Regions from separate parts of the Homo sapiens genome. Here region 1 is linked to region 2. A link means that fine-mapping ties the variant in region 2 to the expression of a gene that starts in the linked region. Tissue or cell type: whole blood. Region 2 holds a variant in brackets; the other region holds the start of a gene. All regions are shown on one strand. Distances are from middle to middle.

Region 1 (8,111 bases), 27 kb before region 2:
AGCCTTTCTAAGTCCTTAATAAATGCCTGTTTACACAACTGGTGTCTTCCCCTAAACCTAAACTTCAAACTTCAAACTCCAAACTCCACCGATTTGGATAGTATTAGAAATGGCATTCATATTAATGGTTATAGTACATTTTTTTACATGTGAATGCAAATGGAATTGTTAGGCATTAAAAAAGAAAGCTTATATAGTGGAAGAAAATAAAGCATCTAGACATAAGCTTTAAGAGATCTATTGTGTTAATACAGCTTTACTTTTTGAGTGGTAAGCTTTTAAAAAGAAATGTGGTGCTCTAACTCCAGGAAAAGATAAGGGTGACTGAAGTGATAGTCTAGAGGAAAAAGATGCAGACATTTACTGAGTACCTCCAATGTGCCAGGTGCCATTCTGGGCATTTTCATTATGTTTCCTCATTTAATTCTCATGGTGATCCTTTGGAACTGTGTTATTCTCATTTTTACAGATGAGGTAACTGAGAGACAGTCAGATTAAAGAACTGCCTATGATTGTTTGGCTAATAATAAGTGGAGGGGTGAGGCTTGAAGGCAGGTTTGTCTTATTCCAACACCCATACATACCCTTAAATTTAAGTTATTCTGACTTGTGTTGCTCAAATCCAATGTGTTCAGCTGTTTGCTTCTCCAATTACCAAGATTTTTCTTTAAAAGGTAGGACACTTTTGGCAACACGAACCAACTTTGCTCAGTATTGTTATAAACTGTTAACTGGAGACATTTGAATTTGGAGATGGAACTGAAATGGTCTTGCGGTACTAGAGAAGATCAAGTTATCACATAAACAAAGTACAGAGCTGAGAACATATTTTAAATCTTTCCACTAACTCTGACTTTTATTGACTAAAATTTTAGTGGGCAGTATGTTTATGTTTATGACTCTTAACATTAACAACATCGTAAGTCAAACTCACTAATATATGTTAAGCATTCTGTTTATGATTCTTTTAACCTAGAGGATTGTTGAGCTGGGACTAATTTCCTCAAATGGGAAAAAAACCCAGGTGAGAGCTGAGACTGCTCCTGAGACTGAGAAAGGCAGCTCTGACGGGATCTCAGATTTTAGCAGCAGGAGTTGAACAATGGGCATAGAATCAGCTTGCCCAAGATCTCCTGATTAATAAACCATGGAACAAGATTTAAACCCAAGTTCATTTCATTTCAAAGCTCATACCACATTTTGCCCACCATATTTTGCTTTGTTATATGACTACAACTTAGTTCAGGCTTACAAAAAAGTCCTAATTCTAAAATTCCTATGGCGTGGGTGGGAGGGGATTTAGATGATTTTGCATAGGCAAGAAACACCCAGTTTCATGGAGTTTGATGGAAGAGTTATGTACTAATATGGGAAAAGTAGAGGCCATCTTTGTCTTTGTTCTTTCTTTTTTAGACGGGAGTCTCGCTCTTTCACCCAGGCTGGAGTGCAGTGGCGCTATCTCGGCTCACTGCAAGCTCCGCCTCCTGGGTTCACGCCATTCTCCTGCCTCAGCCTCCTGAGTAGCTGGGACTACAGGCGCCCGCCACCGCTCCCGGCTAATTTTTTATATTTTCAGTAGAGACGGGGTTTCACCGTGTTAGCTAAGATGGTTTGGATCTCCTGAACTCGTGATCCGCCCGCCTCGGACTCCCAAAGTGCTGGGATTACAGGCTTGAGCCACCGCGCCCGGCCGTCTTTGTTCTTTCTTGAACTCTTCCTTTTCTTGGGTGATAGACTTCGTCAACGTCTAATGAGGATATCTAGGTGCTAGTCTCTGCTCATCAAATGATTCTTATGGCTCAGGAGCCGAATGGGACGTAAATAAACAGTTAAGTCTCATGAACTCACTTTGCATTCATCTCTAGAAGATGACAAAACATTTGTATTTATGTGTAGCGTGGCACTTTAGTTAAACTTTGTACCCCACTTTGCTCTATTTTAAAGCAGAATATCCTTAAAAAGGATACTTAGTCCTGCTTTTTTTTTTCCGCCTAAGCCCATTTAGTCCTTCTACTCATTATGCAAGGACTCAAATGGTTATCTTTACAGAAGTGAGACAAGATAGAATCAATGCTCTTGTAGTCACTTCATCTTTGTCCATTCCCACTTCTGATGGAGAGGGTTCTAGGACATAATGCACTGAAGGTTACATTGTGAGAGATGAACAACATTTGCAAAAGAGGTCTTTTTGCCTTGGAAAGGCTTCATTCTTAAAAAAAAATGTGAGCATCAAGGTTAAGTAGACCTCATTAGCTCAAACTTTAAGGATGATATCAGGATAAAGTTGGGCCCATGAGAAGAGAATGAGAGGGAGATATAGTGACATGAAAATAAGGAGGAAAACGAGGTGTCTATGTAAGTTGGGCTCACCATAAATACAAAGGCAACCGTTAGGGAAAAGCAAAGAAGTCTTTGCACATCCTCAGAACTCTGAATGTCTTAGTGATGCTGTATGAGTGAGTCTTAATGATAGTGAACTGAATCAGTCAAGCCAGGTTGTGTCCATATGAGAATGTGTCTTTGCTAAACATGCCAACATCACTGAAGCAAAGAAACTTGGAGTTTTCTTTAAGATATAGGTCTTTTTTACCTATCCGGCCCAAGCTTTCTCTTCTTGTCACTCCATGCACTGTGTTCCGTATGCTAAATAGTTTGAGAAACCCAAATGGGCCATGTTCGCCTACATTTCATTGTCCTGTACTTCCTGTCCTGTACTAGCAAAGCAGTCCCATTGGTCTTTCTTCTCCTCATTAACAATAAAGGTAACACTTTTGATGTTGTTTCTTCAGAAAACCTTCATTCATCAAAACTGCCTCAAAGATCATGTTTGTTTGATTCCAGAACTTCCTGTAATTACCTGTTATTGTAACACTCATCACTGTATTTTACTTACTTGTGTAACTAATTTTCCATATTCTGCACTAGACAACAAAGTCCTTTAAGTCAGGTACTATATCTATTTACATAGCATTCACATCTCCTACAATAAGGGACATTAGCAGATAAACAACACATATTAAATGAATAATGAAGTTTCTGAAATACTACAGTTGAAAACTATAGGAGCTACATTATATAGAATAAACATTTACTTTGCTATAGAATTCAGTGTAACCCAGGCATTATTTTATCCTCAAGTCTTAGGTTGGTTGGAGAAAGATAACAAAAAGAAACATGATTGTGCAGAAACAGACAAACCTTTTTGGAAAGCATTTGAAAATGGCATTCCCCCTCCACAGTGTGTTCACAGTGTGGGCAAATTCACTGCTCTGTCGTACTTTCTGAAAATGAAGAACTGTTACACCAAGGTGAATTATTTATAAATTATGTACTTGCCCAGAAGCGAACAGACTTTTACTATCATAAGAACCCTTCCTTGGTGCTCTTTATCTACAGAATCCAAGACCTTTCAAGAAAGGTCTTGGATTCTTTTCTTCAGGACACTAGGACATAAAGCCACCTTTTTATGATTTGTTGAAATTTCTCACTCCATCCCTTTTGCTAGTGATCATGGGTCCTCAGAGGTCAGACTTGGTGTCCTTGGATAAAGAGCATGAAGCAACAGTGGCTGAACCAGAGTTGGAACCCAGATGCTCTTTCCACTAAGCATACAACTTTCCATTAGATAACACCTCCCTCCCACCCCAACCAAGCAGCTCCAGTGCACCACTTTCTGGAGCATAAACATACCTTAACTTTACAACTTGAGTGGCCTTGAATACTGTTCCTATCTGGAATGTGCTGTTCTCTTTCATCTTCCTCTATTGAAGCCCTCCTATTCCTCAATGCCTTGCTCCAACTGCCTTTGGAAGATTCTGCTCTTATGCCTCCACTGGAATTAATGTCTTAGTACCACTTGTCTATTCTGCTATATAGTCAGTCCTTACATTGCTTTCTTCTTCTGATAGACCAAACTCTTTAAGGACAAGTACCTAGTCTTATCTATTTCTAGATCCCCCACATTACTCAGAAAGTTACTCCATAAATGTTTGTGGAACTGATTTCTATGTGAAGCACATGTGCCCCTTCACTCTGTTAACATGCATTAGAAAACTAAATCTTTTGAAAAGTTGTAGTATGCCCCCTAAGAGCAGTAACAGTTCCTAGAAACTCTCTAAAATGCTTAGAAAAAGATTTATTTTAAATTACCTCCCCAATAAAATGATTGGCTGGCTTATCTTCACCATCATGATAGCATCTGTAATTAACTGAAAAAAAATAATTATGCCATTAAAAGAAAATCATCCATGATCTTGTTCTAACACCTGCCACTCTAGTACTATATCTGTCACATGGTACTATGATAAAGTTATCTAGAAATAAAAAAGCATACAATTGATAATTCACCAAATTGTGGAGCTTCAGTATTTTAAATGTATATTAAAATTAAATTATTTTAAAGATCAAAGAAAACTTTCGTCATACTCCGTATTTGATAAGGAACAAATAGGAAGTGTGATGACTCAGGTTTGCCCTGAGGGGATGGGCCATCAGTTGCAAATCGTGGAATTTCCTCTGACATAATGAAAAGATGAGGGTGCATAAGTTCTCTAGTAGGGTGATGATATAAAAAGCCACCGGAGCACTCCATAAGGCACAAACTTTCAGAGACAGCAGAGCACACAAGCTTCTAGGACAAGAGCCAGGAAGAAACCACCGGAAGGAACCATCTCACTGTGTGTAAACATGACTTCCAAGCTGGCCGTGGCTCTCTTGGCAGCCTTCCTGATTTCTGCAGCTCTGTGTGAAGGTAAGCACATCTTTCTGACCTACAGCGTTTTCCTATGTCTAAATGTGATCCTTAGATAGCAAAGCTATTCTTGATGCTTTGGTAACAAACATCCTTTTTATTCAGAAACAGAATATAATCTTAGCAGTCAATTAATGTTAAATTGAAGATTTAGAAAAAACTATATATAACACTTAGGAAAGTATAAAGTTTGATCAATATAGATATTCTGCTTTTATAATTTATACCATGTAGCATGCATATATTTAACGTAAATAAGTAATTTATAGTATGTCCTATTGAGAACCACGGTTACCTATATTATGTATTAATATTGAGTTGAGCAAGGTAACTCAGACAATTCCACTCCTTGTAGTATTTCATTGACAAGCCTCAGATTTGTCATTAATTCCTGTCTGGTTTAAAGATACCCTGATTATAGACCAGGCATGTATAACTTATTTATATATTTCTGTTAATTCTTTCTGAAGGCAATTTCTATGCTGGAGAGTCTTAGCTTGCCTACTATAAATAACACTGTGGTATCACAGAGGATTATGCAATATTGACCAGATAAAAATACCATGAAGATGTTGATATTGTACAAAAAGAACTCTAACTCTTTATATAGGAAGTCGTTCAATGTTGTCAGTTATGACTGTTTTTTAAAACAAAGAACTAACTGAGGTCAAGGGCTAGGAGAATATTCAGGAATGAGTTCACTAGAAACATGATGCCTTCCATAGTCTCCAAATAATCATATTGGAATTAGAAAGGAAGTAGCTGGCAGAGCTGTGCCTGTTGATAAAATCAATCCTTAATCACTTTTTCCCCCAACAGGTGCAGTTTTGCCAAGGAGTGCTAAAGAACTTAGATGTCAGTGCATAAAGACATACTCCAAACCTTTCCACCCCAAATTTATCAAAGAACTGAGAGTGATTGAGAGTGGACCACACTGCGCCAACACAGAAATTATGTAAGTACTTTAAAAAAGATTAGATATTTTGTTTTAGCAAACTTAAAATTAAGGAAGGTGGAAATATTTAGGAAAGTTCCAGGTGTTAGGATTACAGTAGTAAATGAAACAAAACAAAATAAAAATATTTGTCTACATGACATTTAAATATGGTAGCTTCCACAACTACTATAAATGTTATTTTGGACTTAGACTTTATGCCTGACTTAAGGAATCATGATTTGAATGCAAAAACTAAATATTAATCTGAACCATTTCTTTCTTATTTCAGTGTAAAGCTTTCTGATGGAAGAGAGCTCTGTCTGGACCCCAAGGAAAACTGGGTGCAGAGGGTTGTGGAGAAGTTTTTGAAGAGGTAAGTTATATATTTTTTAATTTAAATTTTTCATTTATCCTGAGACATATAATCCAAAGTCAGCCTATAAATTTCTTTCTGTTGCTAAAAATCGTCATTAGGTATCTGCCTTTTTGGTTAAAAAAAAAAGGAATAGCATCAATAGTGAGTTTGTTGTACTCATGACCAGAAAGACCATACATAGTTTGCCCAGGAAATTCTGGGTTTAAGCTTGTGTCCTATACTCTTAGTAAAGTTCTTTGTCACTCCCAGTAGTGTCCTATTTTAGATGATAATTTCTTTGATCTCCCTATTTATAGTTGAGAATATAGAGCATTTCTAACACATGAATGTCAAAGACTATATTGACTTTTCAAGAACCCTACTTTCCTTCTTATTAAACATAGCTCATCTTTATATTTTTAATTTTATTTTAGGGCTGAGAATTCATAAAAAAATTCATTCTCTGTGGTATCCAAGAATCAGTGAAGATGCCAGTGAAACTTCAAGCAAATCTACTTCAACACTTCATGTATTGTGTGGGTCTGTTGTAGGGTTGCCAGATGCAATACAAGATTCCTGGTTAAATTTGAATTTCAGTAAACAATGAATAGTTTTTCATTGTACCATGAAATATCCAGAACATACTTATATGTAAAGTATTATTTATTTGAATCTACAAAAAACAACAAATAATTTTTAAATATAAGGATTTTCCTAGATATTGCACGGGAGAATATACAAATAGCAAAATTGAGGCCAAGGGCCAAGAGAATATCCGAACTTTAATTTCAGGAATTGAATGGGTTTGCTAGAATGTGATATTTGAAGCATCACATAAAAATGATGGGACAATAAATTTTGCCATAAAGTCAAATTTAGCTGGAAATCCTGGATTTTTTTCTGTTAAATCTGGCAACCCTAGTCTGCTAGCCAGGATCCACAAGTCCTTGTTCCACTGTGCCTTGGTTTCTCCTTTATTTCTAAGTGGAAAAAGTATTAGCCACCATCTTACCTCACAGTGATGTTGTGAGGACATGTGGAAGCACTTTAAGTTTTTTCATCATAACATAAATTATTTTCAAGTGTAACTTATTAACCTATTTATTATTTATGTATTTATTTAAGCATCAAATATTTGTGCAAGAATTTGGAAAAATAGAAGATGAATCATTGATTGAATAGTTATAAAGATGTTATAGTAAATTTATTTTATTTTAGATATTAAATGATGTTTTATTAGATAAATTTCAATCAGGGTTTTTAGATTAAACAAACAAACAATTGGGTACCCAGTTAAATTTTCATTTCAGATAAACAACAAATAATTTTTTAGTATAAGTACATTATTGTTTATCTGAAATTTTAATTGAACTAACAATCCTAGTTTGATACTCCCAGTCTTGTCATTGCCAGCTGTGTTGGTAGTGCTGTGTTGAATTACGGAATAATGAGTTAGAACTATTAAAACAGCCAAAACTCCACAGTCAATATTAGTAATTTCTTGCTGGTTGAAACTTGTTTATTATGTACAAATAGATTCTTATAATATTATTTAAATGACTGCATTTTTAAATACAAGGCTTTATATTTTTAACTTTAAGATGTTTTTATGTGCTCTCCAAATTTTTTTTACTGTTTCTGATTGTATGGAAATATAAAAGTAAATATGAAACATTTAAAATATAATTTGTTGTCAAAGTAATCAAGTGTTTGTCTTTTTTTTAGTTTTAGCTTATTGGGATTCTCTTTGTTTATATTTAAAATTATACTTTGATTTAGAAAACATAAATGCTTCCCCTTAGCATTTTGTTTATGGAAAATTACAAACTTTTATTTTTAGAAAACAGAACTCCTTTCCAGAAATAGGTTACAAACAGTAGTGTCCTCCACAGAATGTTGGAAATGTTTTCAACTCCCCACTGTATACTATCTTGCTAATAAGTCTGTCTTCAGATTTCGATTAACCGGTTTGTATGTCTGTGCGCTTTAGCATAGCTGGACATTTAAAGAGGAAAGAGAGTACATATTATAAGTTGCTTATCAGTAACTGAGGAGTAAAACTGATAAAT
Region 2 (8,111 bases):
CCTTAGAAAATGTTCACAATAGAAAGTCTTATGTTTTACTTTTTCCTAAAGTAAAATGATTGTCTAAAAGCTACTGATGGGGACAGGAGGCAGAGAAATTCTGGGCAGAAAACGGCGGATCCCTGGTGAAGCTTCAACCTCAAGCCTAAAACCCTGAGACCACAGCCCAAAGTGAGAACTTATAACCCTGTTTTCCCATTCAAATGTTGCCTTTTCCTAAGCCACCCATGGCCCTGCCCCACCCCATCATGTACCTATAAAGACCCTGGACTCAGCAAGCAAAGCAGAGAAGCAGCTGGATATTGAGGACTATAGCTAAATGTCAGAGAGAAGTGGCTGGACTTCAAAGGGACAGCTTGATGGCATAACTTTGGAGAAGAATCCTGCCGGAGACAGCTGGACTTCAGAGGAAGATTATCTTCCTTCCCTGTTCCCTTTTCAGCTCCTCTTCCCACTGAAGGCCACTTTCATCAGCAGTAAAATCACACACATTTAACATCCTTCAATTCGTTTGTGCAACCTCATTTTTCCTGGATGCTGAACAAGAGCTTGGGAGCCATAAGTGTGGATACAAAAGGCTGTCTAAGGCAGAGGACCCACTGAGCTGTTAAAACTTAAGCTGTCTGTGGACAGCAGAGCTAAAAGAGCACTGTAACATGCTTTCTGAAGCTTCAAGGGTCACAGGCATCCCCCTGTAGATGCTGCTGCTGTGGGGCCTGCACAGAGTTTGCCCCTGCCAGTACCCAAAAGCGCTCACCCCAAATCCTGCCCGCTCACCTGTGTGCTCCCTCCTGCAGTAAGTCTGAGTAAGTGGAGTTCACTCATGCCAGCACTGAAGTGGACAGCTGTTTCCAGCACTCCTGCAATCCAGTTCTCGCCTCATTCACTCACGCACACCCTTCTGCAAGGAGTTAAGAGCTGCTGGCTGAGTAAATGAGGCACCCCTGTTGCGAGTCCTGTGAAGGGGTCAGGGAAATATCCTGCTTCATGTGGGGGCCTATACAGGATATGTAAGAAGGGTGAGTAAATGCGGATCAGCTGGATCTTTCTCTTCACTTCTTTTCCAAGATTTCTTGTCCTCAGACTTTCCTCTGAGCTATGCTATTTGCAGGGGACAGGATGCAACCCTGTTACCTCTCTCTTCCTGGTGCAAGGAATGTTGGCTCTTTTTACCTTCATGGGGGTCTGGACTTCGTGTCAGACCAGAATAAAGTCCTGGGGCAACTGTAGGCTACTGGCCAAGGTCACTACTCAGTGTTGCCAGAAGGCCCTTAGAGGGGCTCCAGTCCCCAACTGCCCATTAGAACATTAACCAAGACCCTAGACTTTTCTATGGTATCTTTCCCTTTCTTCTTTCACAGTTTGACATGACTCCTATATCTTTTTTCGTAATAATAAGAGTTTTACTGCAAACAGCAGACATTTTACTAGATAGAATGAGCTTTTGGCCCAGCCATCAGATATGCGATTCAGAACAATGTGATTTCCATCTGTATTAGTCAGGATTCTCTGAGAGACAGGACTAATATGATACATTGTGTATACGAAAGCAAGTTTATTAAGTAGTACTGACTCACACGATCACAAGGTGAAGTCCCACAGTAGGTCATCTGCAAGCCAGTCCAAGTTCCAAAACCTCAAAAGTAAGGAAACCAATAGTACAGCTTTCAGCCTGTGGCCAAAGGCCTGAGAGCCTCTGGCAAACCACTGGTGTAAGCCCAAGAGTCCAAAAGCTGAAGAGCTGAGAGTCCAATGTCCAAGGGCAGGAAGCAAACAGCATGAGAGAAAGATGGAGGCCAGAAGACTTAGCCAATCTCGTCCTTCCATATTCATCTGCCACCTTTTATCCTAGCCATGCTGGCAGCTGATTAAATGGTGCCCACCCAGACTGAAGGTGGGTCTGCCTCTCCCAGTCCACTGACTGAAATGTTAATCTTCTTTGGCAACACTCTCAGAGACACACACTGGAACAATACTTTACATCCTTCAATCCAATCAAAAGTTGATACTCGATATTAACCATCACAAGTCCACCTCTTGTCAACTTGAACTCATATACATCTCCTGAAATTATACATAATTTTCAAATAAAGACAATAATAAGGTCTTAATTATGCCTTACATAGTACAGCTATCCTTTTGCAACTGGAAACACACCAATCCCCAACCCAAATGCTATTACATAAAGTTAATAACACTTAGATGCTGATATGAAGTCAATAAACCTTATGTCACATGATAAAGAAAAAAAAGAAAATGAAAATATTTTCTTAGTCAAGTGTATACATGCACAAACATGTTCTTGACAAAATAAGGAGAAAATACTCATGACAATTACAGTCCTCATCTCTGCATCTAGTCATGTGTTCTTAGCTGGTATTGATGACTACTTCTACTACCCATTCTGTATTCCCTTTGCCTTCAGCAAGCACTTCAGCAGGTTGTGGTTTTTTACCTGGTAGAGTGACCGAAACCTTTATTCCTGAAGGTTCTGGGCCATTTGTAGTCCTGTCTGGATTGGGCCGTTGTAGTTTCCCATTGACCTTTATCATAGGGCATGGTAATACTAAGAGACACCCTAAGGGATCTCCTGTATTCCATGTGCACTCTTCCTTACCTCCATTGTGGAGTAGTAGGCTGATTTCATCTTGATGGTCTGAGTCAGTCACCCCAGCCAACAATGTAACTCCTTTCTTAGCCTGTTGACTTAGAGGTAGGAGGAACGCAAGGTGGCCAGGTGACAATCTTAACTTCCAGTTTAATGAAATCATAGTTGTGTCTCCTGGTGGCAGCATTCCTCCCTCTAGAACTAAGACCTCTAGGCCAGCAAAACATAATGTCATGGGAACAGGAAGCAAAAATTTCCTAGTGGGTCACTAGGGGTGATGATGAGTGGTGCCACTTCCACTTCCATCCCTTGATTCCTGGACCTGTAAATCCTGGCTATGGGAGAAACTGTACCATATATTGGACACTAATTCAGAGCATACACAGCCTTCTGAAGAACTTTGCCTCAGCCATGCAAAGTATTGTCACCTAGTTGGCATTGTAATTGTGACTTCGAAAGGCCATTCTACTGTTCTATCAATCCAGCTGCTTCAGGATAATGGATAACATGGTAAATCCAGTGAATCCCATGAGCATGAACCCACTGTCACACTTCTTTAGCTGTAAAGTGAGTGCCTTGGTCAGAGGCAATGCTGTGTATAATACCATGATGGTGGATAAAATATTTTGTGAGTCCACAGATGGTGGTCTTGGCAGAA[G/A]CATTGGTGCAGGATAGGAAACCCATATCCCAAATAAGTGTTTATTCCAGTGAGGACAAACTGCTGCTCTTTCCGTGATGGAAGAGGTCCAGTATAATCAACTTGCCACCAAGTAGCTTGCTGATCACCCCAAGAAATGGTGCCATATTGAGGGCTCAGAGTTGATCTCTGCTGCTGGCAAATTGGGCACTCAACAGCAGTCGTAGCTGGGTCAGCCTTAGTGAGTGGAAGTCTATGTTACTGAGCCCATGTGTAACCTCCATCCCTGCCACCATGGCCACTTTGCTCACGGGCCCATTGGGCAATGACAGGGTGGCTGGGGAAAGAGGCTGAGTGGTATCCACAGAACGAGTCGTCCTATCCACCTGATTATTAAAATGCTCCTCTGTTAAGGTCACCCTTCAGTGAACACTCACATGAGATACAAATATCTTTACAGTGTTTGACCACTCAGAGAGGTCCACACACATATCTCTTCCCCAAATTTGTCACCAATTTTCCAATCATGCTTCTTCCAAGTCCCTGACCATCTGGCCCAACCATTGGCTACAGCCCATAAACCAATATATAATTGGACATCTGGCCATTTCTTCTTCCAACCAAAGTGCACAACCAGGTACACTTCTTGAAGTTCTGCTCACTGGGAAGATTTCCCTTTGCCATTGTCCTTTAGGAATGTCCTTGAAAGGGGCTGTAGTGCTGCAGCTGTCCACATTCAGATGGTGCCTGCATATCATGGAGAGCTATCTGCAAACAGGGAACTTGTCTTCTCTTCCTCAGTCAATTGATCATAGGTAACTCCCCATGAGGCCATCGCTGAAGGCTGGGGGAGAGAAGGCAGGGTGGCAGGAGTGGGGACCATGGTCATTTGAGCCACTCTTTCATGTAACTTGCTTGTGACCTCAGGACTTGCTCAAGCCCGATCACGTATACACCACTTCCATTTAATGATGGAATGCTGCTGTGCATACCTCACTTTGTGGCTAAATGGATCAGAAAGTACCCAGTTTATGATAGGCATTTCAGGTCGCATGGTGACTTGATAACCCATAGTCAAATGTTCAGTTTCTACCAAAGCCCAGTAACAGGCCAAAAGCTGTCTCTCAAAAGAAGAGTAGTTATCTACAGAAGATGGCAGGTCCTTGCCCCGAAACCTTAGAGGCCTCTGCTGTGATTCACCTATAGGGGCCTGCCAAAGCTCCAAACAGCATCCCTATCTGCCACTGACACCTCAAGCACCGTTGGATCTGCTGGGTCATATGGCCCAAGTGGCAGAGCAGCTTGCACAGCAGCCTAGACCTGTTGCAGAGCCTTCTCCTGTTATGGACCCCATTCAATTCTAGGAGCCTTCCAGGTCACTCAATAAATGGGCTGGAGTAAGACACTCAAATGAGTAATGTGTTGCCTCCAAAATCCAAATAGGCCTACTAGGCATTATGCCTCTTTATTGGTTGTAGGGGTGGCCAAATGCAGCAACTTATCCTTCACTTTAGAAGGAGTATCTCAACAGGTCTCACACCACTGGACCCCTGGAAATTTTGCTGAGGTAGAAGTTCCCTGAATTTCAGTCAGTTTTATTTCCCATCCCCTGGCATGCAAATATCTCACCAATAAGCCCAATGTGTTTGCTACTTATGACCTACTGGATCCAGTCATCCTAATGTCATCAATGTAATGGACCAGTATGATATCTTGTGGAAGGGAAAGGGATTAAGATATCTGCAAACAAGATTATGATGCAAAGCTGGAGAGTAATGGATCCCTGAGGTAGGACAGCTGAAGGCAATTTGCAAGCTGAAGGCAATTTGCTTCTGCTGGGCCTTGTGGACAAGAAGGGAGGAAAAGGCATTTGCCAAATCAGTGATTGCATACCAGGTACCAGGAGGTGTGTTAATTTGTTCAAGCAATGAAACCACATCTGGTACAGCAGCTGAAATTGAAGTCACCATTTGATTAAGATTACAGTAATCCACTGTCATTCTCCAAGATCTATCTATCTTCTGTATGGGCCAAATAGGAGAGTTGAACAGGGATCTGCATCTTTCAAGTCCTTCATGGTGGCACTGATCTCTGCAATCTCTTCAGGGATGCAATATTGTTTTGACTTACTATTTTTTTAGGTAGAGGCAGCTCTAATGGCTTCCATTTGAGCTGCCTTTCATTTTCCACCATAATAACCCTCACCCTACCAGTCAGGGAGCCAATGTGGGGATTCTACCAGCTGCTAAGTATGTCTATGCGAATTATGGATTCTGGCACTGGGGAAATAACCACAGGATGAGTCTGGGTACCCATTGGACTGACTGGAAGTGGGACATTAGCTAAAACTCCATACATTACCTGACCTACATAAGCCCCTACTTTAACTGGAGGACCACAGTGGCATTTTGGGTTCCCTGGAATGAATGTCAGCTAAGAGCCAGTGACCAGTATTCCCCAAATAATCTGATCATTTTCCTTTCTGCAATGCACAGAAAGGCTACAAGAGGTGAACCCCAGAGGCCCCTCTAGCAATGGAGCCAGCTCCCTCTTGCCTGCTCCTCTTGGTCCACCCCATCCTCCCTATCCAGTTTATCTCTCCTGTTTGCTCCCTCCTAGAAATCCTCACCCTAGATAAGCCCCAGTCCCACTCTTGCCCCTCCAACAGATGCCTGGTGAATTTGGTCCCTGGTAAGATCCAGGTCCCTTTCCCTCTAAAGGACTTAAGGCCAATTAAGGGGGATCTTGGCAAGTTTTCACATGATGCTGACAGATGTATAGAGGCTTTCCAGAACTTAACTCAAGTATTTGAACTCTCCTGGGAAGATGTTATGCTACTTTTGAATCAAAGCCTGACTAACACTGAGAAGCAGGCTACTCTGCAAGTGGCAGAGAGATTTGGGGAATGAGCTTTCTATTACATACAGTGTCAGGGAAGGGGTCAAACTTTATCCAACTAGAAGAGAAGCAGTACCGTTGGATAACCCTAAATGGGATCTCACTGACAAGATGGGAGAATGGAAGAGGAGACACATTCAGGTGTGCATAATGGAGGGATTATGTAGGACTAGAACTAAGCTTCTCAATTATTCTAAGTTATCCATGATAGACCAGGTATTTGATGAGAATCCCACTGCTCTCCTGGAAAGGTTAAAAGAGGCCTTGGTGAAGCACAACTCTCTACTTCCTGATTCAGTTAAGGGACAACTAATCCTAAAGGATAAATTTATTACTCAGGCAGCCCCTGAGATCAGGAGGAAGCTGCAGAAACAGGCCCTGGGACCAGATAGTACTTTAGAGAACCTCCTGAAAGCAGCCACCTGTCTTTTACAATAGGTCACTGGAATAGATTCTTGAATTTATTACACCCATGTAAATGCCTGGGAAGCTGATGAACCCAAAGAGTACCCAAAGTACCAATATGAAGAGGTTGGGGACCTCAAGCTAAAAATTACAAAAGATAAGTGTTAAACTTCCATGGATATCCTCTTTATAGTCTTGCCTATGTTCGCTGTTTTTACCTTTATTCTGTTCTATACTGCAGGATACAATATTGTGTCTAGAAGGAATAGTATATTTTACTTCTTATTTCTGTAAACTTTGTCACCAGATTATCTCCTTTTAACCCCGTTTTGTATAATACATATATTTGATCCATGCAAACTTATCCCTGTAAAACTTGTTTCTTCTCACCTAAAGGCGATCAAATTCCAAAGGGTCATGTAACTGGAGCCTCGGACAATGGCTCCCTTTTACCAGAGGCCCTTAGGTAAACCTCTGAGGGAAATCTGACCACTGTTTTCTTCAAAACAGTGTCCCCAGTAAGCAGAAAGTAGCTAAGATCGGTCATTGTCTGTATTCTAATGGCAGTGAGATGTTCCGCTTTGAAAAGGGAAATGATGGGGAAAGGAGGCAGAGAAATTCTAGGTAAAAAAGGGCAGGTCCCTGGTGAAGCCCTATCCTCAAGCTGAAAAGCCCGAGACCATGGCCAAAGTGAGAACTGTTTTCCCATGCGAACTTTGCCTTTTCCTAAGTCACCCATGACCCTGCCCCACCCCATCCTGTGCCTATAATGACTCCAGACTCAGCCAGCAGAGGGAAGAAGCAGCTGGACCTTGGGGACTACAGCTAGACATTGGAGAGAAGTGGCTTGACTTCAGAGGGATGGCTTGACCACGTAACTTTGGAGAAGAATCCTGCTGAACATGGCTGGACTTCAGGGGAAGATTACTTCCCCTTTTCAGCTCTCTTTCCCACTGAGAGCCACTTTCATTGGCAATAAAATCTCCCACATTTACCATCCTTTAAATCATTCATGCGACATCATTTTCCGTGGACACCTGACAACAGCTTGGGAGCCACAAGTGTGAATACAAAAGGCTTCATACTGGCCCTTTTCCCTCGCTGGCAGAAGGCAGCCACCTCACATGAAAAGAAAGAAGTCCCACTGAACTATTAACATTTTAGCTGTCTGTGGATGGGAGAGCTAAAAGAATACTGTAACATGTCCTCTGGGACTTCAGGGGTCACAGGCACCATCCCATTGATGCTGCTGCAAAGCCCACATGGAGTTTGCTCCTGCCAGTGCCTAAATGTGCTTGCCCTGGCTCCTGCACTCGCTCACCTGTGCACTCCCTCCTGAAAGGGGTGGAACACAGCAGGTGCAAGTGAGTGGAGTTTGCTCCTGCTGGCACCAAAGCAGCCAGCTGGTTCCAGGGCTCATGCAATCCAGTTCCTGCCTCATTTGATAGCGTGCTCCCTCCCACAAGAGTTGAAAGCTGCTGACTGAGTAAATGAGGCACCTCTGTTGTGAGTCCTGTGAAAGGGTCAGGGAAATATTCTTCTTCACTACCAAAAGACATGCTT

What was found. PIP is the estimated chance that this variant, and not a neighbour inherited with it, causes the effect.
Region 1: it holds the start of CXCL8, and the variant in region 2 is fine-mapped to the expression of CXCL8 in whole blood (TOPMed, PIP above 0.99).

The regions. Positions count from the first base shown.
Region 1 is chr4:73,735,973-73,744,083 of GRCh38, forward strand. It overlaps CXCL8 (C-X-C motif chemokine ligand 8), which reads left to right and starts at 4,597. Exons shown (of 4, transcript NM_000584.4): 1 at 4,597-4,750; 2 at 5,570-5,705; 3 at 5,977-6,060; 4 at 6,477-7,744. The coding sequence starts at 4,687. The coding sequence ends at 6,492. RefSeq lists a silencer at 3,060-3,354.
Region 2 is chr4:73,763,157-73,771,267 of GRCh38, forward strand. No RefSeq gene overlaps it. Among named protein-coding and RNA genes, the nearest start is that of CXCL8, 27 kb to the left of the region's middle. The variant G/A (reference allele first, on the strand shown) is at 3,267.